7 linked regions of the Homo sapiens genome follow. The protein of the gene in region 1 purifies or fractionates together with the protein of each later gene. This does not show direct contact. Each region holds a gene or a part of one and is shown on either strand. Other genes may lie near its edges. The genes, in order: MYH11, ACTR3, SVIL, INF2, TBC1D31, PEDS1 and C4BPA.

Region 1 (3,500 bases):
GTTTTTGTCTCTGGTCCAAAATCTTTAGCCAATGGCTTGGCAGTAAAATCCTGAGGGAAGCTGTTGACCAGGTGAGGTGATGTGCAAATCCTATACTCTCTGGGCTCTGGGATATTTAATTTACTATTTATTTATTTATTTTCAAGACAGAGTTTTGCTCTTGTCGCCCAGGCTGGAGTGCAGTGATGGGATCTCAGCTCACTGCACCCTCCACCTCCTGGGTTCAAGCGATTCTCCTTCCTCAGCCTCCTGAGTAGCTGGTATTACAGGCGCCCACCACCACACCTGGCTATTTTTTGTATTTTTAGTAGAGACGGGGTTTCACCATGTTGGCCAGGCTGGTCTTGAACTACTGACCTCAGGTTATCCGCCTGCCTCGGCCTCCCGAAGTACTGGGATTACAGGCATCAGCCACCATGCCCGGCCTAATTTACTTTTTATTAATGCTGAAGCAGAGAGGGCAAGATCTTTTGCCCCTGAGTTCTTCTGGGAAAAATGAAACTGATGGTAAAACAAACTAAAGCAACCTGACATTCTCAGTTGGTCCAGTTTCAGCCCTTTGACTGGGAGTCACAGACGGGTCCCATAAAATGGTAGAGCTGGGCCAGCCTACCATTGATTTATTTTCCCTAAATGAAAAATACAAGGCCCAGAGAGGGCAAGTGACTTGTCCAGAGTCACCCAGCAGGTTTGGGGCAAAGCTGAGACTCGTTACTTGACATCCTAAGGTCTTCCAGAGGCTAATGATTAGCTTGTTTGTGCTCAAAAAATGAAGCAGCCTGGGCGCGGTGGCTCATGCTTGTAATCCTAGCACTTTGGGAGGCTGAGGCAGGCAGATCGCTTGAGCTCAGGAGTTTGAGACCAGCCTGGGCCACAAAGTGAGACCCCTGTCTCTACAAAAAAATGCAAGAATTAAAAAATTAGCTGGGTGTTCTGGTGCGTGCCTGTGATCCCAGCTACTTGGGAGGCTGAGGTGGGAGAATGGCTTGAGCCTGGGAGGCAGAGTTTGCAGAAAGCAGAGATCGCGCCACTTCACTCTAGCCTGGGCAACAGAGCCAGACCCTGTCTCAAAAAAAAAGAATGAAGCAGTTGTTGGTCAGGACAGGACTGTAAACAAGGCTGACACACTCAGATGTGTCAAACATCGCTAATGCCAAAGGTGACAGAGTCATTTGTTTTCATCCAAACATTCGAGAAAGTTGGACGAGGTGACTCACGCCTGTCATCCTAGAGCTTTGGGAAGCCAAGGCAGGAGGATCATTTGAGATCAGGAGTTTGAGACCAGCCTAGGCAAAATAGCAAGACCCCCATCTCTACAAAAAATAAGCCGGGCATAGTGGCCCACACCTGAGGTGGGAGGATCCCTTGAGCCCATGAGTTTGAGCCTGCAGTAAGCTATGATTGCACCACTGCACTCCACCCTGGGCATATAGTGAGACCCTTCCCCCAACCAAAAACATTGAGAGCAGCTCTTGATGAGTGAACTGTACTTCGTGGTCAGCAGTTCTGGGTAGTAATTTCAGAGATGTCCTTTCAGCCCTTGGAGCTGATGCAGGACCTTAAACATGAGCGATGGTGGAGGAGGGAGGGTTGGGAAGGTGCATCAAGGTAGATGAAGAGTGTCCCTGGGGTTGGGCCAACTGGCGGTCCGTCTCTGGTCCAGTGTGTTCACCTTGCCCCCGTCTGATCTTCTGCAGTTGGTATTCCGAGTTGAGTTTGACTAAGTGAGAGCTGCTCTCAGCTTTAACTGCCTTTCCCAAGACAGCCCTTGTTTTTATTCTAAAGCTGTGGTTCTCAACTGGAAGCAGTTTTGCCACCCCAGGGGACATCTAGCAGTGTCTGGAGACATTTTTGATTGTCATGAGTGGAGGAAGGGGTGCTACTGGCATCAGGTGGGCAGAGACCAGGGATGCTGCGGAACATCCCACAATGCACGGAAGAGCTCCCCTCACGACACAGAATGACGCAGCCCAAGAGTCACAGTGCAGAGTTTGTGGCCAGCTGCGGTGGCTCACGCCTGTAATCCCAGCACTTTGGGGGGCCAAGGTGGGAGGATTGCTTGAGGCCTGGAGTTCAAGACCAGCCTGGCCAATATGGTGAAACCTCATCTCTACTAAAAATACAAAAATTAGCCAGGCATGGTAGCGCATGCCTGTAGTCCCAGCTACTTGGGAGGCTGAGGCACGAGAATCACTTGAACCCAGAAACGTGGAGGTTGCAGTGAGCTGAGATTGCGTCACTGCACTCCAGCCTGGGTAACAGAGCGAGACTCTGTGTCAAAAAAAAAAAAAAAAAAAAAAGACTTAGCAACTATTATTACTAGTATTAGTATTATTAATTTGTCAGGCTCACTGAATTTTCTCAAAAATTTGGCAAATTTTTAGGAAAACATTCTCAAAACATTTGGCAAATCTGTGGCTAAATGTTGTTTTGGGGACCCAAGGCTCGTAGGAGCAAAACAGCTTTCAGGTTTCCGGATCTGCCAGAGACTCAAGTGTCCTGTTGTGTGTTTTGTGTCTCAATGAGGGAAAGGGGAATATGTAGCACCTTCCAGATGGATTTGACCTTGACTGCGCCACTGTTTGAAGAGCTTCTCAACCTCCGCAGCTCCACCCCAGCCCAGATATTTCAGGGAATTAGGGTTCCAAGGGGCATGCTATGGAAAACACCATTCTAGCATGAGTCGAAGCTTCTCATCCCCCATCTTGCTGTCTTTTGACCAAAGCAGATTTTGCACGTCGTAACTGTCAGAGACATCAAAGCCAGAGGGAATCCAGCCTGCTCCAAGCTCTCCTTTTTTGTACAGAGACTGAATCTTTGCACTTGATCTTGTTTGTGTTTTTAAGTCTGAGGTTAGACAGGGTCCCAGGCAATGGAGGCGTGCGTGTCCTTTTATTTTTCTGTTGTAGCTTTTGCTATTTTTTCTGACTTTTAAGGCAACTCATCCACATGGCAATTAGGAAGAGCCCACTTAGGGCTGGGCACAGCGGCTCATGCCTGTAATCCCAGCACTTTGGGAGACCGAGGCAGGCAGATCACTTGAGGTCAGGAGTTCAAGACCTCAGCCTGGACAACATGGTGAAACCCCGTCTCTACAAAGAATACAGGAAAATAGCTGGGCATGGTGGCAGGTGCCTGTGGTCCCAACTATTTGGGAGGCTGGGGTGGGAGGATCACTTGAGCCTGGGAGGCGGAGGTTGCCGTGAGCTGAGGTCATGCCACTGCACTCCAGCCTGGGCGACAGAGCAAGACCCTGTCTCAGAAAAAAAAAAAAAAAAAAAAGAAGTCCACTTTACTTGTCATAGTGCTTAGAACAAATGAAACACTCTCCTAGCCCTCTTGGGATGTAATTGGCTACCATCTGCACAAACTCTTCATTATTGCACAAGAATATCAATATACTTAATGCTACTGAACTGTGTTTAAGTGGCCGAGGTGGTGAATGTTAGCTGTATTTTACCACAATTAAAGATAAGAGGGAAGGAAAATGAAGTGTACTT
Region 2 (3,500 bases), on another chromosome or scaffold:
CTATGTTGGGCCAGGCTGGTCTCAAACTCTTGGGCTCAAGTGATCCTTCCACCTCAGCCTCCCAAAGAGCGCTGAGTTTACAGGTGTGAGCTGCTGCGCCTGGCTGAAGCTTATGTTTAAATTTATATATATATATTTAAGATAGAAGAGTCCATCAATACTTGGAGAAGAACAAAGCAAATTCCTTTAAATTGTATCTCAAAATAATAGGAAACTTTGTATATATGTGTTTGTAGTATTTTAAAAATTGGAAGTAATTTAAATTTAATTGGAAGTCATTTGAATTTAATTTTTTTTTTTTTTTTAGCTTGCTAGACATTATTTTAGAGTGACCATTTTATACTATGTTTTAAAGTTTATCTGTAGGGAAAGTTCTGTTAAAACTGGTAATTTAGTCATCAGAAGGTCCTTGTTTGTTCTGTTTAAGTATTTAAAAACATTAAGGTAAAAGTTAAGCTTCATTGCATAGAAAGTATGATGTTTTACACTGAATAAAGGGAATTATTCTAAGAATCCTGTCCCCAAATTAAAATGTCTTTAAAGCCCCCTAAAAAGGTGTTCTAGTGTTCTAATACCATTAACCTAGGAAGTATTGGTGCTTTGTTCTGGTAGTGCATGCAATATTAAAATGAAGGAGCTTTTATCTGAATTATTGAATAACTGTACAACTTTGGATTTAAAACCATTTCCAACATAAGAGGTGAAAGTTATTTTTTTCCTCAATTTTAGTCTTCTTCAATTGGGCCATATAACCTAGTTGAGTTTGTGACTTTGCCTTGAGAAATGAGGTAACACAGCATGGAACAGTCTATCTTTTCCAGACCTTGAATGAGGAAGGCAAATGATCTAGACATTTCTTAGAACTAGACGAAAAATAGTCATAGCATGACTAGGAGTAGTTTTATCTGTAGTTAGGCGAATGCCGCTTCTTTACATTATTGGTGCAATGAAAGTATGGGAAAGTCTCAACAGAACAGACTGGACATTTGAGAACCTTCCATTTTTCAAAATTTCAGAATCCTCGCAGCAGGTGTGTGAGACAAGGATTGGGGACAGGAGTTAATTGCTCTTTTGGAGTTCCGATAAAGATTTATAGCTGATTTTAAGTCATGGCTGCTAGAATTTCTAAGCTTTCATGCCATGAATGGACTAATAATAAACATTTTAGACTTAACATCTATTTTAAAGCATCACTCTTAAAGTTTATTTCAATATACCTTCAAGATGGTAGATTTTTGACCCTTATAAAAATACATATTTTTTGTTTTCAGCCTGAGTTCTACCAAGTATGCCACACCAAAAAGGATTATGAAGAAATTGGACCTAGCATTTGTCGTCACAATCCAGTGTTTGGAGTCATGTCGTAAAATTGGCTTCATAGTTATTGGGGTTAGGGAGGTGGGGAAGAGATAATCTTTCTGATTACCTGTTTTGTCTGGATGGCTGGTTTTGAGGTTTTAAACCTGACTTGAAATAGTAACACCAAACATGATTATACAGGAATATTTTAATAAGTGTATCACCATGCAGATGTAGAAGAGAGCGAAAGTGATTGTGTTTTTCTTTAGATTGAATATTTGAATCTTATGTGTAACAAAAAGAAGTGGGTTTTAGTTCTTTCTGTGCCCTGATATTTTGTATATTAATGAATTATCCAAGATTCGATGGGATTTATCAGTGTGTAGATAGCTCTATAATGCTTGAATTGTACACTTCTAAGTGTGCAGTGCAAGAGCTTGTTTATATTTCATACTTTTTATACTTTGAGGAAAAAAAGTCAAAGAAAAATTGTATTTGAGGGAAAAAACCATGACCAAGTAAAGGATAAATTCAAAAAATAGCCTCATGAGACTTGGCATACACACTCGTGGGATTCCAGTTATTATGGAGTGCTTCCATCCCTCTCCACCCCTTCCCCCCAAAAGGTTTTCTTTGCAAGTGCTTTTGGAACTAAGAGCTAGTATCTTGGATTAACTGATGCCTGCTAGTGCTTTCTGATTACTCGCATTCTGTTTCTTGCTTTAAAAGAAGAGTAAAGACAAGAGTGTTGGACCAGTATTGCAGTTCTGTAGTGTCATTTCTTATAAAAAACAAAACAACAACAATAATTTATCAAAATTGGCATATTTAAAGCCTAACATTCTAATAAAGGCACAAATTTCTTTTTAATACTTGTTTCAGCCTCTTTAATCTCTTTATAAGTTAACTAATAAATCTATTTTCTTCAGACTTCTGCAATAGTTCTTTAAAATCACAACAGTTAGCAAGCTGACTTTTGTAATGTGCTCAATACAAATACTTGTGAACTTTTAATATGTTGAGTGCTTTCATTTTGATAACTGGATCTCCATTTGATATTTTCATTTGTATAACTCATTTGCAGTCTGAAAATTTTTTTTAGTGCCAGTCCCTGAACATATCATTGAAAGTTAATTTTCTTTGCATTTTAAAATATCTGGATTATGAAGAAAAAGTGATGAAAATAAATTAAAACTGAATTACCTTTTCTAATGTTTTTTTTTTTTAAGTAATGTAATTCTATTTTGTTTTTATGTATGTGATATCTGTTTCTGTTGAGATTTGGGAGTTATTGAAATCTCTGTAATGTGTATGGTAGAAAATTTCTTGTGACCTTAAAATTTTACCAGTTATTTATAGAAAGAGAAAATGGGAAATGTTTTATAGGCTTTTTACTAGCAGTATCAGTGAACACTTGAACTCCATTATTCATGAAAATAACACGTTAGGATTGGAATACGTCTATTCAAAAGTGAAAGAATATAAAGTGTTTAGTTTTTTGTTTTTACTCTAAAGATAGAATTGGGGAGTAAACTTCAGTTTTTGTTTAGAGTGGATCTGAATATTTAAAATCCTATAATAATTTTTGTGAATCTTCATTCTTTGAGTATGGGATTGTAAAAGACAAACTATATCCTACAGTAGTATCATCATCAGTATCAAAGGTCTCCTTTTTTTACTTGGAAAAGTAATTCACAAACATTATAAAAATACTATTCAAACAGTACCAAAGAGTAGATTAGCAAAAGTAAGTTTTTTTCCCTAGCCTGTCTCATTTTTCCATCATTACACAGACTACTTGGAATGTCTTAGATGTCCTTGTATTGTAATTTTCTGTGTAGGTAGAAATAAATGTAGCTTTCTTATTTTACACAAATAGGAACTTACTGTATATACTGTTCTGCACTTTGCTTTTATTAAAGATCTTTTGATAAAGAACTATATTGATAAGCAGTAAAGATGTCATGCTCCTGGCCCAATAAAATATTGTTAGCATTGTCATAAATATGTCTTTTCCACCGGCGATGGTTGGGTAGTTAAGTGAATAAGCTAGAAAGACATGTTTATAAAGCTATTTGATGACAATCTCAGGCATATTTATACAGAGATGTTCTTAACTGTTTGCTACAAAAACATGAAGATCAAAAACTTTCTTGAAGCTTACGCTTAACTTATTTGGGGAAACAAAACTCCAGCCCTTC
Region 3 (3,500 bases), on another chromosome or scaffold:
AAAATAGTACTAACATAAAGGTAGGCAGAAGGCAGATCTAGCTTATATACAATCAGCTTCACCCAGTGATAGAAGTGACCAGGTGAATCGTCTTAAAAAGAAAAAAAAAACACACAGAAAGATTACAGACTCCAAAGTTTCAGTTGTAAGTTACATTCTCTGACATGATTAGTGACACACAATAGTTCATCCAATGTTACTAAACTCCTTCTAAAATCATCTCAAAGTCTTCAGTTAAGACTACCTTTCTTTTTAACTTTTGCTAAGTTTAATAAAGTTCTGAGACAAAGTCTGAAAGTAAGAAAGAAGTAAAGTGGATCCAATGATTTATTTCTGTAACATCCTGCTTGATATCAACATCAACCTTTGCCTTGGTAATGAAATCAACGTTTTATAGACCGAATGTTATGATAGCAGAGAAAGCATGAATTTTAAAAATAGAGAGAGATGGGTACTTGACTTGTACTTGCCTCAAGTATACATATATATATATTTTTTTTCCTTTTTTTTGAGACGGAGTCTCACTCTGTTGCCCAGGCTGGAGTGCAGCGGCGCGATCTCTGCTCACTGCAAGCTCTGCCTCCTGGGTTCACGCCATTCTCCTGCCTCAGCCTCCCGAGTAGCTGGGACTACAGGTGCCCACCACCATGCCCGATAATTTTTTGTATTTTTAGTAGAGACGAGGTTTCACCATGTTATCCAGGATGGTCTCGATCTCCTGATCTCGTGATCCACCCGCCTTGGCCTCCCAAAGTGCTGGGACTACAGGCATGAGCCACCACGCCCAGCCTCAAACATATATTTTGAAATGCGTATAAGCTTTATCAGTATGAATTCTAGGGGAAGAGAGAATTTCAGAAGATACAAAATGCAAACTGTAGGAGGATACAAAGCCTTACAAGTGTCTCCTTTGGTTAGGAACCATGCCGGGTTTTTTGGGGTCTTTTTTCAGCTTTGAGGTATAATTCACAAATGCAAATTGTATATACTCAAGGTGTGCAGCATGATGTTTTGATATAAAAGCTGAACTCACAGAAACAAAATGGAAAGGTGGTAACCAGGGGCTGGAGGTAGGAGAAATTGGAAAGACATTGGTCAAAGGATGCAAACTTGTAGTTACGAGTAAGTTCTGGAAACCTAAGGTATAGCATGGTGACTATAGTTGCTAACAATGTATTATATATTTAAAATTTGCCAAGAAGTAGATCTTAAGTTTTCTCAAGGCACACACACACGGTTATGGCCCCTACATCAGACACACATAACTATGTGAAACCATGGTAGGTATTTTACATTTTGTTATTAACCTAAGCACTTGAACAACAGATGTAGGGCTGAAGATCAAGAGAATCGCTCAGGGTACTTTAGTACCATTCCATTGGAACTTAAACGCTACGAGGGCAGGAATTTTGTTTCCCACCGCTCTTTCCCCAACACCTATACCAGTCCCTGACACACAGTAAGTGCTCAGAAAACAACTGTTGAGAATAAATGAATACCTGGCAGTGAACTAATAAACTCAAAGGGAAACGAAAGCCAAGCACATCCCATCTTGTTGTGAACACGAAGATTCTGACGGTCTCAGGCATCCCTGAGCGAGTCTGCTGTGACCACTTTGGGGTTTCACATCAGGAGAAAAAACAAATGTCCAAAAGAAGATAAAAATAAATTAGGTTAGAGAAAAGAAAATAGACATACTTAAATGAACACAAAAGAAACTATGAGAGCTTAATTTAAAGAGGTGTCAGAAACTTTCCAAAATAAAGAATCAGGCTGGGCGCGGTGGCTCAGGCCTGTAATCCTAGCACGTTGGGAAGCGGAGGCGGGTGGATCACGAGGTCAGGAGATCAAGACCATCCTGGCTAATACGGTGAAACCCCGTCTCTACTAAAAATACAAAAAGTTAGCTGGGCGTGGTGGCGGGCGCCTGTAGTTCCAGCTAGTCAGGAGGCTGAGGCAGGAGAATGGTGTGAACCCGGGAGGCGGAGCTTGCAGTGAGCCGAGATTGCGCCACTGAGCTCCAGCCTGGGAGACTGAGCGAGACTCCATCTCAAAAAAATAAAATGAAAATAAAATAAAATAAAATAAAATAAATAATAAGAATCAAAGACAAAGAATGATTATGAAGCCATCAGAGAAGGGAGAAACAGTCTGTGTATTTCAACAGAAACAAGCAAGGACAGTGAGAGGACTTTTTAAAAAAGATCTTCTTTCTCAACACATTTCTAATTTGTTCCTGCTCTCCCACCTTGAACTACTACCTTCCAGATACAAGGTGTTGCCTTTCCAAGGAAGACAGATTATTCTCGATCTCTGAAACCTTTGGATTACAGAATCCCAATACGTAAAAGGGGTCTTAAAAATCCTCTAGTCCAACCCTTGTTTGAATGAATGAGGCCACTGAGGCTCAGAGAGGTTAAGAATTTACCCAAGGTCACACAGCTGGTTATTCATGAAAATCAATGTTCCTCCTTCTTTCTCTGGCCATTGACACCTTCAATTTCCAGATAAAATCTTCCTCCTGCACCGAGAGCAGGGAAAACACTTCTTTGGACTTTTGGGGAGGTAGGTGAATGAATGAAGGAAACAAAGCATGTTGGCTGTTATGGCCCCTACATCACTTTGCTCTGCTGTGTTCTCCACGCCACGTGCCCACTGCAACTTCCTTTTGAAATATTTAAGAATAGTTGGCTGCCTGAAAGCTCTCTGATGCCTCTGGAGTGAAGACCTGATACAAATCCAAATTAATAAATTCCATCTCAAATGGGAGAATCCTGTGTTGGGTAAAGTACATCCCATGAAGCTGAGTCACCCTATTCTGAAGCACAATGACCAATTTTATCTAATCACAGAATTTTAAAATATTCAGCACTTCCAATAAAAAATGTATGAAATCATAAATCCAAATGGTTATGTGTGTGTGGCTAAAATGAACATCCGGGGGAAATTAAGACTATCAGCACAATTTAGAGAGCTAGCTGCTTCTTAACGGTACAGCCAAGCCTTTTTTTCTAACCTGGCTCAAACCTATAGAGTTATTAGCTGGTTTAGATGTCTGATGCAATATTTGCAAACAAATTGAATTAATTGCAAAATAAACAAATGTAGCTGAATTTTGCAACCAACATAGCACACAGTAAACTAAACTATCAGCTTAACTCAAACAAAAAATTCCTAAGAAAATTTATATCCAAAACCACTAAAACATTCAGATGTCATTTTCACTTTCATAACCTACCTCTTAATTCAACATATTTTAAGCTACTGAAAATCAAGTGCTTTCCCATTTGGGTTTTGGCTGGAGCGGTTTGTTTGTTTTGGAGTAACAGGTGTGCAACTGCAACATGTATATGTCTTAAATTTTTGGCTGAGATAAATTAGATATAATGTTTCAGAATGTATGAAAGAGTATTTACTTAAAATTTTGAAATATTTAAAGTATGTGAGATCTTAAAAACCTAAAAATATCAATATGGTTTTTCTATTCAATGACTGTATCT
Region 4 (3,500 bases), on another chromosome or scaffold:
GTGACCAAGAGGGCCGGGCCTGGGAGGGTGGCTTAAAACCACAGTGCACCGGGGGCTCCGGGCTCTCCGTTCTACAGTGCCCAGACCAGGACCCCCTGCAGGGAGGAGGGGCATCCCAAGGACAGCCTCTCAGGATGCTCCTGGCAGCCTGGTGCTGGAGGTGCAGAAGAAGAAACTGAGGCCCAGGCAGGATGAGTGACTGGGCCAAGGTCTGCTGGTGAGGGCCCGGGCTGGGGACATGCAGATCAGAACCCTGGCTTACACCTGTCAGGCTGCCTCCTGGAAGGAGCCCACTGGCCCCCTGGGGCAGTTGGACAGGTGGAGGGCTGAGGGGCGGTGCGGGGAGTAGGGGCTGGACTGCCGGAAACACCAGGCTTGGTCGTGGACCAGGCTGGGGAGTGGGCCTGAGACCTCAAGGGCAGGTGCTCCAGGACACTCTCCCAAGGCAGGAGGGGAGGAATAGAGCCTCCTGGGGAGGCAGGCGCTTGGGTGCTCGACCCCGCTCAGCTCCCGTGACCTCAAATGCCCTTCAGCCTGGGGTCCCCTGACTTACCGGGTTGGGCAGCACTTGAAGCAAAGCCATGTGGGACCTCCAGTCACAGCCCAGCCGTGCCCAGGTGTGGGACTGTGGGCACAGACCCAGCTTCTCTAGGACCCAGCCGCCTCCAGTTCCCCACCTGTTGTGGGAGGTATAAAGTGCCTGCCTTGGAGGTGGTGGGAAGCCGAGGGCCAGGGTGGAGAGTGCTGGGCCGGGGTGGAGGCTCAGAGCGTGTCCCTGCCAGGCCCGGCCCCCTAGCTCCCTCCCCGAGGCTCCACGCTGCTGTTCTCAGACGCTAAATATAAGATCTAAGCCATACATGGTTGCAGGAGGGCCTGGGATGCCCCTGACCTTCGAGGCCAGTTCCCAGGGTCTGTGGTTGGGGACAGCGGCTGGGGGGATGTGGTGGCGTGGAGCTGATGTCAGAGGTGCAACCCGCCTGTCCTGCTGTTCTGTTTTGGGGAAAGGCACGTGTTGGGGCTCTTCTGGGCTGGGCCTGTTACCTACCCGGGTGTTCCCAGGGCTGGAGTCAGACCTGTTGCGACTGAATCCTGGTAAAACCCTGAGTGCCAAGGGTTTCCGTCTTCCTGTTGGTGTGGGCCCCCTACCCACATGCAGACGGGCAGACTGAGGCCCAGGGGAGACCTGGGAGTCGCCCCTCCTCCCCAGCCACGCTGCTGACGCTGTGGGCACCCCAGGCATGCCTGAGGTTTGGAATCTCCCTGTCCATATTGTCCACTGGGGCGGGGGAAGTGCCCTGGGGTGAGATAAGGCAGCCTCAGATGCGCCGTTTTGTCGCATCATTACCGTGGGTAATGTTCCAGCCAGGGGAGCCTCCCGCTCCCCCGAGTCCTCCCCAAGCTCATCCGGTCCCGTCACTCTGCAGGGGCCGTGCTGGCCTCGTGCTGCAGGTTTCTGAGCCGGCTCCTCCCCTCCCAGCCCTGAGCCTCGGGGTCCTCATGCGCGCAGTAGGGCCCTTCCTGCCTGCCGCCTCGGTTGCTGAAATTCGGTCAGGGATGGGTACAGGGAAGCCTAAGATATAGTGGGGGACACAGTGCTACCCCTAACCCTCAGCATGGCACGTGAGCAGGAATTGCAGCAGAGAAACTGAGACCGAGGGAAGTGGCCCCGCCTGCGCTGGTGGCCAGGAGGACAGCCCCCATCCCCTCCCCGCTGACGGCTCCCTGCCCTCTGCCTGCAGCTCGGCAAGATGTCGGTGAAGGAGGGCGCACAGCGCAAGTGGGCAGCGCTGAAGGAGAAGCTGGGGCCACAGGATTCGGACCCCACGGAGGCCAACCTGGAGAGCGCGGACCCCGAGCTGTGCATCCGGCTGCTCCAGATGCCCTCTGTGGTCAACTACTCCGGCCTGCGCAAGCGCCTGGAGGGCAGCGACGGCGGCTGGATGGTGCAGTTCCTGGAGCAGAGCGGCCTGGACCTGCTGCTGGAGGCGCTGGCGCGGCTGTCGGGCCGCGGCGTTGCACGTATCTCCGACGCCCTGCTGCAGCTCACCTGCGTCAGCTGCGTGCGCGCCGTCATGAACTCGCGGCAGGGCATCGAGTACATCCTCAGCAACCAGGGCTACGTGCGCCAGCTCTCCCAGGGTGAGCCGCAGTGTGGGAGGGCCGCCCAGGCGGACGCTGGGGACCTGGTATGAGGCTTCAGGCCCAAAAGGCCCCGGGAGGCCTGGGGAACCACCAGGAGGAAGCGCAGCCAGGCAGGCAAGGAGGGCTTCCTGGAGGAGGACTGGCTTCCTGGGCTCAGGAAAAACATCCACATTCACTCCGAGTCTGAGGCTTCCAGGTCACCCCAGTCCCCGCACTGCTGCACCAGCGGTCCCCCTGTGCCCCTCTCTGTTGTGTGGCTCTGCCCCACCCTTCCTCCCCGTCCTGTGCTGGCTCCCACCCTCTGGGCTCTCTGCCCTCGTCCACACCTCGGCGGCAGGAGTCACTGAGTCAGAGATGCGAATCCACCCGAGTGGCTCCCTACATACACCTGCCTAGCTCCAAGCCCTTCAGCCTCAGCCCAGACAGAGCCCTTGAGGTCTGGCCCACACCTACTGATGGTGTCACCCTCCACCTCCCAGCGCCTTCCCTAGCGCCTCCCTCCCCGCCCTGTCCCCTACTCCAGCACCCAGGGGACTCGTTCCCGGCAGGCAGGCAGGCCCTTGGTCTCTGCCTCTGCTCGTGTTTTCTGCCTTTGCGTCCTCCAAGGTCCTGCGCCGCTAAGCCTTTAAGCCCCAGCTCACTTTCCTGTCCTCCAGGAAGTCTCCCCAGGCTGTGCCCAAAGTTAGTCCCGGTCCCTTGAGAGAAACCCTTGCTGTGCCACTCCATGGCTGCTGCCAGGTCCTACCGATGCTTGGGGACGAGCTAGGGTGGGCAGTGATGGGCGGGGCTGGGCCCATGGGGGCGGCAGTTACCTGTGCAGGCAAGCAAGCCAGAGGCGCCTCGTTTCTGTCGGACCCAGGGGACAGAGGCAGGTGTAGGGGCCAGCCATTCTCAGCCCGTCTCCCCAGCCTGGGCCTGGCAGGGCCCCTCTATGGAGTCTTTTGTGAATTGTTCTCAGCAGGGTCAGATGAGAGACACCCCCAGAACTTTCACAGCTCCAGATGGGGTGGGAGGCAGGGGTTCATAGGAATGAGGTTGTGTCTGCCATAAACACAGTAAGTGCTGCATTGGGAGAAAAGCTGGGCCCAGAGCCAGTGACAGGATGGGGCAGCTGCCTCCAAGCCCTTCCCTGCAGGGTCTGGCCCTGTGGTCCAGGAGCAGGGCCAGGACACCGAGGAGTGGGGCACCTCGTTGGGTCCCAGCCCACTGCTGTGGGCCACAGACAAGTGCCCGGCACCCCCTGGCGTCTGCCTGCCAGGCCCAGAGCCCCAGCCCTGAGCCCAGCTGCACAGGCATGGGAAGGGGTGCATTGGCCCTGCTGAGCCTGCCCACTCCACCCTGGCAGCCCTGGACACATC
Region 5 (3,500 bases), on another chromosome or scaffold:
AATTCTTGTTTTAATTCTACCTCATAATTGCTTTGTCAGGTAAATCTCGATTTAAACACCAAGTTTTCTTACAGTTTTTTTTTCACCATCGGAATAACCTGGATATAAATGTTGTGATTAGACAAGTTTATCATCTCATGGAGACCACGCCTACTGACATTCATCCAGACAGCATGCTTAATGTTTTTGTTGCACTGACAAAAGGGCAGTATCCAGTATTTAATCAATATCCAAAGTTTATTGTGGACTATCAAACACAGGAACGAGAAAGAATAAGGAATGATGAATTGGATTACTTAAGAGAGAGGTAATTATGGAATAGTTTTTCTTTTTCTGATACAATGAAATATGTTATAAACATAAGAAAGTTTTAATGAAAAATACATTTGGCTGAGCGCGGTGGCTCACGCCTATAGTCCCAGCACTTTGGGAGGCCAAGGCAGGTAGATCACAAGGTCAGGAGTTCGAGACCAGCCTGGCCAACATGGTGAAACCCCGTCTCTACTAAAGATACAAAAAATTAGCCAGGCATGGTGGCACGCCCCTGTAGTCCCAGCTACTCAGGAAGCTGAGGCAGGAGAATCACTTGAACCCAGGAGGAGGAGGTTGCAGTGAGCGGAGATCATGCCATTGCACTCCAGCCTGGGCGACAGAGTGAGACTTCATCTCAAAAAAAAAAAAATGCATTTAAATTATGAGTATTTGTGTAAAATCAGAGTTTGAAGGCTAGAAATATTAAAGATAGTTAATTCTTGCATATGGAAATAAAATAGATTATACATTAATCGGTATACATTTTGTGTTTTGATGATTCTTAGCTTTCTTCTTTGTGTTTTCATAATAATATTACCTACTTAAGGCAGACAGTTGAAGATATGCAAGCTAAAGTCGACCAGCAAAGAGTTGAAGATGAAGCTTGGTACCAGAAACAGGAGCTGCTTCGTAAAGCTGAAGAAACAAGAAGAGAAATGCTCTTACAAGAGGAGGAGAAAATGATACAACAAAGACAGAGGTATGTGTTATCACTTTAAAAAAAAATCTGGACATATAAGTTAGTTGAATAATTTTTATGTTCTTTCATTTTTTCATTTTAGAAACAACATTATATATAGGATTACCCAGCTGTAGCATTTCTATAAAGCAACTATTAAGTTAATAAAAAGAATCTTTATATACCACTTTTCAAAAAAAATTGCTATGTAGTAAAATGTAATTCTGAAGCTATGCTGAATATAATATAGCTTTGCATGGATTAATGTTCCTTGAAGGACATTATTTAGAAACATTATTCTATAGTGGGCAGAAATGCTTTGTAATAGAATGCTAGGTACATCACCTTTAGTAGAGTATAATTTTTTTAATTGTGTTTTAAACATACCTGTGTGACCTGACAGTTGTAACATAGAATGATTATGTCATTACCCATTTAACACTTTGGAGGACAGGGGAATGAGTATTAAATGCGTATTCAAAAGTACGTTAGCTGGGTGTGGTGCCACATACCTATAGTCCCAGCTACTAGGTAGGATCACTTGAGCCCAGGAGGTCAAGGCCAGCCTGGGCAACATAGTGAGACCCTGTCTCTTAAAAAATAAAAAGAAAAAACTTAAAAATAAATACATAAAAGTATGTTAATAAGGTAAAATGTGTAAATTAAGTAAAGTAATGGGATAAACATTGAGACTAAGCCCAATAGTTGGGAAACTCACTTCTGTGTTTATTGATTCCTATTCTTAGATGGAACTTTATGTAACAGATTTATAGTGTGGGTTAAAAGGAATTACTGAACTGAGCCAGTGAGCTTTCTACTAAAATTCTTAAAGCATAAGTATACATCATCTTTGGTAACGGTGGAGCAGTTCTCGCATTCTTCTTTCAAATAAAGGATATCAATTGTATTGAAATGATCAGCATGGCAGACCTGTTATGAAAAAACTAAATCATATTAGGAATTGCTGTATTTGTTCCACTTGATGTATTTTGTATTTAAGGCTAGCTGCTGTGAAAAGAGAGCTGAAAGTAAAGGAAATGCACTTACAAGATGCTGCAAGAAGGCGTTTTCTGAAGCTTCAGCAAGATCAACAGGAAATGGAACTAAGAAGACTGGATGATGAAATTGGGAGAAAGGTTTATTATTCTTAACTTAGTTCTCATACATCATCTCCATTTACTCTCACTTAAATGTAATGAACACCTTCAAATTAAATAATATTCTTAGAGTCCACCATGAATACTAAATAGCCGCTTTAATTTTATTTACTTTTCCCCTCAGCTTTCTCATTCTCTTTTGTATTTCATGAATGGCTAAATATTTAAGAAATGCCAGGAAAATTAGTCAAGTGTCCTTGGTGACTATTTCTCTAAAACTAGAAATATCAGTATCAGTTAGCCATTAAGTTATTTTTTCTTTTCTTTTCTTTTTTTTTTTTTTTTGAGACAGAGTCTTGCTCTGTTGCCCAGGCTGGAGTGCAGTGGCGTGACCTCAGCTCAGTGCAACCTCCGCCTCCCGGGTTCAAGTGATTCTCCTGCCTCAGCCTCCCAAGTAGCTGGGATTACAGGTGCACGCCACCACACCCAGCTAATTTTTGTATTTTTCTTAGAGACGGGATTTCATCATGTTGGCTAGGCTGATCTCAAACTCGTGACCTCAGGTGATCTGCCCACCTTGGCCTCCCAAAGTGCTGGGGTTACAGGCGTGAGCCACCAAGCCCGGCAGTTAATTTTTAATTAGGGGACATATTCTTTTTTCATATAAAAATTATCTGTGGCCAGTATAAAAATAATTTCCAGTACAAAACATACAGAATTAAAAATTGACCTTCTCCATTAGTTCTCATGTCATCCCCAGAGAAACACTATTAAAAAATGGTTAATTGGCTGGGTGCGGTGGCTCATGCCCGTAATCCCAGCACTTTGGGAGGCCGAGGCAGGCAGATCACCTGAGGTCAGGAGTTCGGAACCAGCCTGGCCAACATGGTGAAACCCTGTCTCTACTAAAAATACAAGAATTAGCTGGGCATGGTGGCAGGCGCTTGTAATCCCAGCTACGCAGGAGGCTGAGGCAGGAGAATTGCTTGACCCTGGGAGGTGGATGCTGCAGTGAGCCGAGATCATGCCACTGCACTCCAGCCTGAGCGACAGAGTGAGACTCAGTCTCAAAAAAAAAAAAAAAAAAAAAAAGGTTAATTACATAGACTTTCAGGTATGTTCTATAGATAGAGGAGTAATTATAGTCATGTTTTCCTATATTTATACAAAAATGGGATTATTCTCATTATACATTGTTTTTGTAACCTGCTTTTTAAAATTTCATATGCTGAATATCTTTTCATATTTGTTATATGTGTATCTATTTCTCTTTTTGTGGTTGTATAATATTCCATTGAATTAATAGCTTATTTAATCCTTTGCTATTGGACATTTCGGTTATTTGCAGTGTTTTGCAAATTACAAAACCATGCTACATTGTAAAAGTCTTTGAGTACTTGCACACATACTTT
Region 6 (3,500 bases), on another chromosome or scaffold:
AAAAAAAAAAAAAAAAAAAAGAGGGGAGGAAGGCTGGGCGCATTGGCTCACGCCTATAATCCCAGCACTTTGGGAGGCCACGGTGGGAGGATTGCTTGAGTCCTGGAGTTCAGTACCAGCCTGGGCAACACAGCGAAACCCTGTCTGTATATAAAATAACAAAATTCGCCAGGTGTGGTGGCATGTGCCTGTGGTCCTACTGGAGGCTGAAGTGGGAGGACTGCTTGAGCCTGGGAGGTTGAGGCTCCAGTGAGTCGTGATCGAGTCACTGCACTCCAGCCTGGGTGACAGAGGAAGACTTCATCTCAAAAAAAAAGGCGGGGTGGGGGGAGCAGAGTAACTTTTGTTTGTTGTTTTTTTGAGACAGACTCTCCCACTGTGGCCCAGACTGGAGTGTGGCGGTGCCATTCACAGCTCACTACAGCCTTGAGCTCCCATGCTCAAGCGACCCTCCCACCTCAGACTCGTGAGGAGCTGGGACTACAGCTGTAGAGACAAGGGTCTCACCATGTTGTCCAGGCTGACCAGTGAACTCCTGAGCTCAAGCGACCCACTCACAAATCCTAAAGTGCCTCCCAAAGTGCTGGGATGACAGGCGTGAGCCACCGCACCCAGCCGAGGGTAACTTAACTGTGGAGAACTCTGACATCTGCTACCTTAGTCATGGGATCAGAGTCATCACAGTGATAAGTCATGTTGACAGTCTGTACTTTTGCTATGATGTGATGAAAATGGCACTTCACCTCTGAACTCTTCCTCCTCATAACCCGTAACCCCAGTCTAATCATGAGAAAAACATCAGATAGATACCAACAGAGGGGCAGCCTACAACACACCTGACTAGCACTCCTCAAAACCGTCAAGGTCAGCCAGGCGCGGTGGCTCACTCCTATAATCCCAGCACTTTAGAAGGCCGAGGAGGGTGGATCACAAGGTCCGGAGATTGAGACCATCCTGGCCAACATGGTGAAATTCCATCTCTACTAAAAACGCAAAAATTAGCCGGGCGTGCTGGCGCGCGCTTGTAGTCCCAGCTACTCGGGAGGCTGAGGCAGAAGAATCGCTTGAACCTGGGAGGCGGAGGTTGCAGTGGGCCGAGATTGCGCCACTGCACTCCAGCCTGGCAAGAGTGAGACTCCGTCTCAAAAAACAAACAAACAAAAAAAACTGGACAAGAGGAGCCTAAAGGGACATGACAACTAAAGGCCATGTGATACCCTGGATGGGATCCAGGAACAGAAGAAGGACATTAGGGAAGAACTAAGGCAATCTGAATAAGCCATGGACTCCAGCTCATGATAATGTATCAACACTGGCACACACTGTAACAAATGTGCCCCGCTAATGTAAGATTTAGGATGTGAATAATGGAGGAAACTGCGTGCCCCAGGCATATGGGGACTCTCTGTACTATCTGCCCCATCCTTCTGTAAGTTGAAAACTTGTTCTAAAAAATAAAGTCTGTTTTTCAAAAAGTGGACAATCTCACTTCATGTCCACAGTAACAGGCCCCACCCCATCCTGACCTTCCAGAGGAGGGTAAGAACTCCCCAAGGTCACACGGTGGCAGGGGCAAGGCAGGGCTGCTGGTGAGTAGCCAGAGACTCGCTAGAGTCATTCAGGATGATGCAACCTTAGGGTTAGGGTTAGGGAGACTTCGCACCCAGGTATGGAGAATGGGGACATTTACCTCCCTTAACTATGAGAAGTTAATAAAATGGGCTGCTGGGTAAAGGGCCCGGTGGGTCCCACGACACAGCAAGCATCCCCCCAACGCAGCTCCTGTGAGCTCTCTGCTGAGCCTCAGTCTTGCCATCTGTCCAATGGTCAAGGCCTGGCGCCTGCACGCTGCCCAGCAGGGAGGGATGTCTGCTTTGGACAGAAGTCAGGAATCATCTTAGGAGACCAGGAGCCCTCCCCCTGGCTCCGTGATCTTGCGGCCTCTGCCGGTGGCAGTGACTCCAGGCTGCTGTCTGAGGCTGCTTTAATGGGGGCAGGGGTGGCAGACAGGCACACAGAAGCCTCTTTGTCCCAGCTTTGGGGTGGTGGCAGCTGGCAGCCGGCTCCCCCTGGGGGCAGCTTCGGCTTGGTTACCACCCTTCCCCGCAGAACACTGGGACAAGGAGAGGGATGGGAGACGGCTCACCCCAGGCTACCCTGACTCACGGGGGAACTTGAGGTAGTCGCTGGGCCCGTGCGGGCTTCCATTTCCCCAGAGGTCACCCAGCTGGGACTTCCTCACCCCTCCCTGCCCACCTCAAAGGCCTGGCGTGGAGATGGAAGGCGTGGCTGAGGAGCCAAGTGAATGCACTGAGGGCAAATCCATGGGTTTCGGTCCTGGGTCCCAGTCCTGTCTCTACCGCCTTCCAGCTCAGTCAGATCCAGACTCCACTTCCAGCCACAGGACGGGCCACGACCCGAGCCTGGGACTTCTCTGACCTCATCCCTGACCTCTGGACTCACTGTGCCCTCTGCCCGGAAGGCTTCTCCCAAGGTCCACGAAGGACTCTGCTCCTTTAAGGGCCAACTCACAACCCAAACACTTCCTCCCCCTTCTCCACGTGGAACAAAAGCTCAGGGCTCCTACGGCCTTCACTTGTTCACCCACTCACTCACGACAACGATGTGCGTGTCACAGTGGCTGATGACCTCCACGTGGCTAAATCCAAAGGTCCCTTTACTGGCCACCTTGCTGGTCCACTCGGTGGCTGTTCCCAGTCGACCCCCAAGACTCCTGGAAACACATTCTCCTCTTGGCCCCTGCAAGCCCTCCCTGGTTCTCCCCCGACCTCCCTGGTTCTCCCCCCATCTCCCTGGCAGCGCCATCCCAGCCTCCCTTGCTGGCTCTTCCTCCTCCCCAGCCTGGAAACACGGGAGACTCAGCCCCTGGGGGTGCTCAGCCAGCCTAGGAGATAAGGAGCTTCATCTTGACACAGATGACCCCCGGATTTCTTTCTTTTTTTTTTTTTTTTTCCAGAGGAAGTCTCACTCTGTCGCCCAGGCTAGAGTGCAATGGGGCGATCTTGGCTCACTGCAACCTCTGCCTCCCGTGTTCAATCAATTTCTCCTGTCTCAGCCTCCCCAGTAGCTGGGATTATAGGCGCCTACCACCATGCCCAGCTGATTTTTGTATTTTTAGTGGAGACAGGGTTTCACCGTCCCAAAGTGCTGGGATTACAGGTGTGAACCACCATGCCCGGCCGGACCCCCAGATTGCTATTTCCAGCTGCCTCTCCCTGCCTCCAGACCTAGATTTCCAGTTTCCTGCTCAACACCTCTCCTTAGCTCAACAGCGGCCATCTCAAGCATCTCCCTCAGGCCTGCTCTGCCGATGACCTCTCTCCATCTCTGTGAATGACAGCTTCATCCCTTCCATCTCTCAAGAGAGAAACCTTGGAGTCAAGCTAATTCTCTCTCACCTCCACAGCCAACCTGGAAGCACATTCTGGCAGCTCACCTTTCACAGCTCCTCCAGAATTTGACAACGCATCACCACCTCC
Region 7 (3,240 bases), on another chromosome or scaffold:
TGCAAAGGACATGAACTCATTCTTTTTTGTGGCTGCATAGTATTCCATGGTGTATATGTGCCACAGTTTCTTAATCCAGTCTATCATTGATGGACATTTGGGTTGGTTCCAAGTCTTTGCTATTGTGAATAGTGCTGCAATAAACATACGTGTGCATGTGTCTTTATCATAGAATGATTTATAATCCTTTGGGTATATGCCCAGTAATGGGATTGCTGGGTCAAATGGTAATTCTAGTTCTAGATCCTTGAGAAATTGCCACACTGTTTTCCACAATGGTTGAACTAATTTACACTCCACCAACAGTGTAAAAGCATTCCTATTTTTCCACAACCTCTCCAGCATCTGTTGTTTCCTGACTTTTTAATGATCACCATCCTAACTGGTGTGAGATGTTATCTCATTGTGGTTTTGATTTGCATTTCTCTAATGACCAGTGATGATGAGTATTTTTTCATAGGTCTGTTGGCTGCATAAATGTCTGCAAGAAGGAAATTTTTATACTTAGAATCTTGCAGCAATCAAAACTGTGAGTGACAGTTACCTCGTTAGTTGGGATTCTGGGGTCACATACCTTCTTTTAGAAATATCCTGTCATGGAAACAACATGCTGGAGAGGATGTGGAGAAATAGGAACACTTTTACACTGTTGGTGGGAGTGTAAATTAGTTCAACCATTGTGGAAGACAGTGTGGCGATTCCTCAAGGATCTAGAACTAAAATACGATTTGACCCAGCAATCCCATTACTGGGTATATATGCAAAGGATTATAAATCATTCTACTATAAAGACACATGCACATGTATGTTTATTGCAGCACTATTCACAGTAGCAAAGACTTGAGACCAACCCAAATGCCCATCAATGATAGACTGGATAAAGAAAATGTGGCACATATACACCATGGAATACTGTGCAGCCATAAAAAAGAATGAGTTCATGTCCTTTTCAGGGACATGGATGAAGCTGGAAACCATTATTCTCAGCAAACTAATGCAGGAACAGAAAACCAAACACCACATGTTCTCACTCATAGGTGGGAGCTGAAAAATGAGAACACATGGACACAGGGAGGGGAACATCACACACTGGGGCCTGTCAGGGGGTGGGGGGCAAGGGGAGGGATAGCATTAGGAGAAATACCTAATGTAGATGATGGGTTGATGGGTGCAGTAAACCACCATGGCACATGCATACCTATGTAACAAACCTGTAGATTCTGCACATGTATCCCAGAACTTAAAGTATAATAAAAAAAGAAATATGTTGTCATATTATATGAAAATGTTATTACTTTGAGCAAGTGTCTTAATGTATCTCAGCTGTCTCTTAGATAAAATGGGAATAATAACAGTGCTCATTTCATAGGGCTGCCAGGAGACTTAAATGATAGCAACATAAAGTGCCTAGCAGAAGTCTGATAGGTAGTCATACTCAATAAAATGCTAATATGAATGTTTTCAAATGAAGAGAAAGATAGAACAATTAGCAGAACTAAATACAGTTCATTCTTATTATCCGAGACTGTTATCATGTCCTTCTTCATAGATTTACAGATTTCTTAAAAATATGTTTCCATTACAGCTCTGTGTCGGAAACCAGAATTAGTGAATGGAAGGTTGTCTGTGGATAAGGATCAGTATGTTGAGCCTGAAAATGTCACCATCCAATGTGATTCTGGCTATGGTGTGGTTGGTCCCCAAAGTATCACTTGCTCTGGGAACAGAACCTGGTACCCAGAGGTGCCCAAGTGTGAGTGGGTAAGTGGCACAATTCAAGGAAGTTCTGTGCTGTCGACCCCTAAAAATGGTGGCATCCCCCAGAGCTCTGTACCACTCAACAATGGTGAAATCTGACTTGTCAGGATTCATTTCTGAGCCACTCCCACTCAAAGAAACTCTTTTTGTCTTGAAGCATTCTGGTAAGTTAGGGGTGGCAAGTTCTCCTGTTCTCACTTGAGAACAGGAAAAACTGAGCCCTTACAGAGCAGGGTTTCATAGACCCAGTAGTACTGATTTCTAGCCTAACTTTTGCTAAGCTATATAATATATTGTTGTTCCATTTCTGGATGGTCAGCAAAAACAGCCTCTGTTACCATGGGGGCCTTCTGGACAGCTGTCTCAGAACAGATCCATGTTCCCCTGGGGAAGACTGTGGTGGGACCCAAGTGATTTCTTGTTTTCCCAGCCTCAACCACCAGTCTGAGGTTGGTCTTGGTTCAATCCTGTAGTCCTTCCACTGTCAGGATCCACCCTCCTTTATGATTAGAAGAGAAGCTTCTCAATCACACCCACCACTTATATCTTTTAGGAGACCCCCGAAGGCTGTGAACAAGTGCTCACAGGCAAAAGACTCATGCAGTGTCTCCCAAACCCAGAGGATGTGAAAATGGCCCTGGAGGTATATAAGCTGTCTCTGGAAATTGAACAACTGGAACTACAGAGAGACAGCGCAAGACAATCCACTTTGGATAAAGAACTATAATTTTTCTCAAAAGAAGGAGGAAAAGGTGTCTTGCTGGCTTGCCTCTTGCAATTCAATACAGATCAGTTTAGCAAATCTACTGTCAATTTGGCAGTGATATTCATCATAATAAATATCTAGAAATGATAATTTGCTAAAGTTTAGTGCTTTGAGATTGTGAAATTATTAATCATCCTCTGTGTGGCTCATGTTTTTGCTTTTCAACACACAAAGCACAAATTTTTTTTCGATTAAAAATGTATGTATAAAAAACTATTTTGTCTTTGTGGTCATTTAGGACTCTGTGAAATAAGCGTCCTTAAAAAACCCATAATATAAAGTTAATACATTAATACATTTGTTTTACTGTTTGGGCCACAAATAATAGGTACTTGGGTTTTCTTTTTTTTTTTTTTTTTTTTGAGACAGACTCTCACTCCGTTGCCCAGGTTGGACTGCAGTGGCACAATCTTGGCTCACTGCAACCTCCACCTCCCAGGTTCACACAATTCTCCTGCCTTAGCCTCCTGAGTAGCTGGGATTACAGGTGTGTGCCATCATGCCCAGCTAATTTTTGTATTTTTAGTAGAGACGGGGTTTCACCACTTTGGCCAGGTTGGTCTCGAACTCCTGACCTCAAGTGATCTGCCCACCTTGGCCTCCCAAAGTGCTGGGATTACCGGTGTGAGCCACCATGCCTGGCCATACTTGGGTTCTTATCGTGGACAGACTGCCTTTACTCCACAGTTTCATGTGTGCACAGCACTCATGTCCTC

Evidence for each region.
Region 2: the proteins of MYH11 (region 1) and ACTR3 purify together in Homo sapiens (affinity purification with mass spectrometry; one large-scale study listed by BioGRID and IntAct). This does not show direct contact.
Region 3: the proteins of MYH11 (region 1) and SVIL purify together in Homo sapiens (affinity purification with mass spectrometry; one large-scale study listed by BioGRID and IntAct). This does not show direct contact.
Region 4: the proteins of MYH11 (region 1) and INF2 purify together in Homo sapiens (affinity purification with mass spectrometry; one large-scale study listed by BioGRID and IntAct). This does not show direct contact.
Region 5: the proteins of MYH11 (region 1) and TBC1D31 purify together in Homo sapiens (affinity purification with mass spectrometry, with the first as the bait; one large-scale study listed by BioGRID). This does not show direct contact.
Region 6: the proteins of MYH11 (region 1) and PEDS1 purify together in Homo sapiens (affinity purification with mass spectrometry, with the first as the bait; one large-scale study listed by BioGRID). This does not show direct contact.
Region 7: the proteins of MYH11 (region 1) and C4BPA purify together in Homo sapiens (affinity purification with mass spectrometry; one large-scale study listed by BioGRID and IntAct). This does not show direct contact.

What each region holds. Positions count from the first base shown.
Region 1 is NC_000016.10:15,847,029-15,850,528, reverse strand, and holds part of MYH11 (myosin-11), read left to right. Parts: intron 1-3,500. UniProt on the Homo sapiens protein: Muscle contraction.
Region 2 is NC_000002.12:113,956,089-113,959,588, forward strand, and holds part of ACTR3 (actin-related protein 3), read left to right. Parts: intron 1-1,271; coding exon 1,272-1,367; 3' UTR 1,368-3,500. UniProt on the Homo sapiens protein: ATP-binding component of the Arp2/3 complex, a multiprotein complex that mediates actin polymerization upon stimulation by nucleation-promoting factor (NPF).
Region 3 is NC_000010.11:29,624,972-29,628,471, forward strand, and holds part of SVIL (supervillin), read right to left. Parts: intron 1-3,500.
Region 4 is NC_000014.9:104,699,618-104,703,117, forward strand, and holds part of INF2 (inverted formin-2), read left to right. Parts: intron 1-1,739; 5' UTR 1,740-1,748; coding exon 1,749-2,139; intron 2,140-3,487; coding exon 3,488-3,500.
Region 5 is NC_000008.11:123,128,207-123,131,706, forward strand, and holds part of TBC1D31 (TBC1 domain family member 31), read left to right. Parts: intron 1-39; coding exon of another isoform or gene 40-74; coding exon 75-307; intron 308-859; coding exon 860-1,012; intron 1,013-1,991; coding exon 1,992-2,127; intron 2,128-3,500. UniProt on the Homo sapiens protein: Molecular adapter which is involved in cilium biogenesis. Part of a functional complex including OFD1 a centriolar protein involved in cilium assembly.
Region 6 is NC_000020.11:50,136,724-50,140,223, forward strand, and holds part of PEDS1 (plasmanylethanolamine desaturase 1), read right to left. Parts: intron 1-3,500. UniProt on the Homo sapiens protein: Plasmanylethanolamine desaturase involved in plasmalogen biogenesis in the endoplasmic reticulum membrane.
Region 7 is NC_000001.11:207,142,233-207,145,472, forward strand, and holds the end of C4BPA (C4b-binding protein alpha chain precursor), read left to right. Parts: intron 1-1,585; coding exon 1,586-1,761; intron 1,762-2,311; coding exon 2,312-2,485; 3' UTR 2,486-2,740; downstream 2,741-3,240. UniProt on the Homo sapiens protein: Controls the classical pathway of complement activation. It binds as a cofactor to C3b/C4b inactivator (C3bINA), which then hydrolyzes the complement fragment C4b.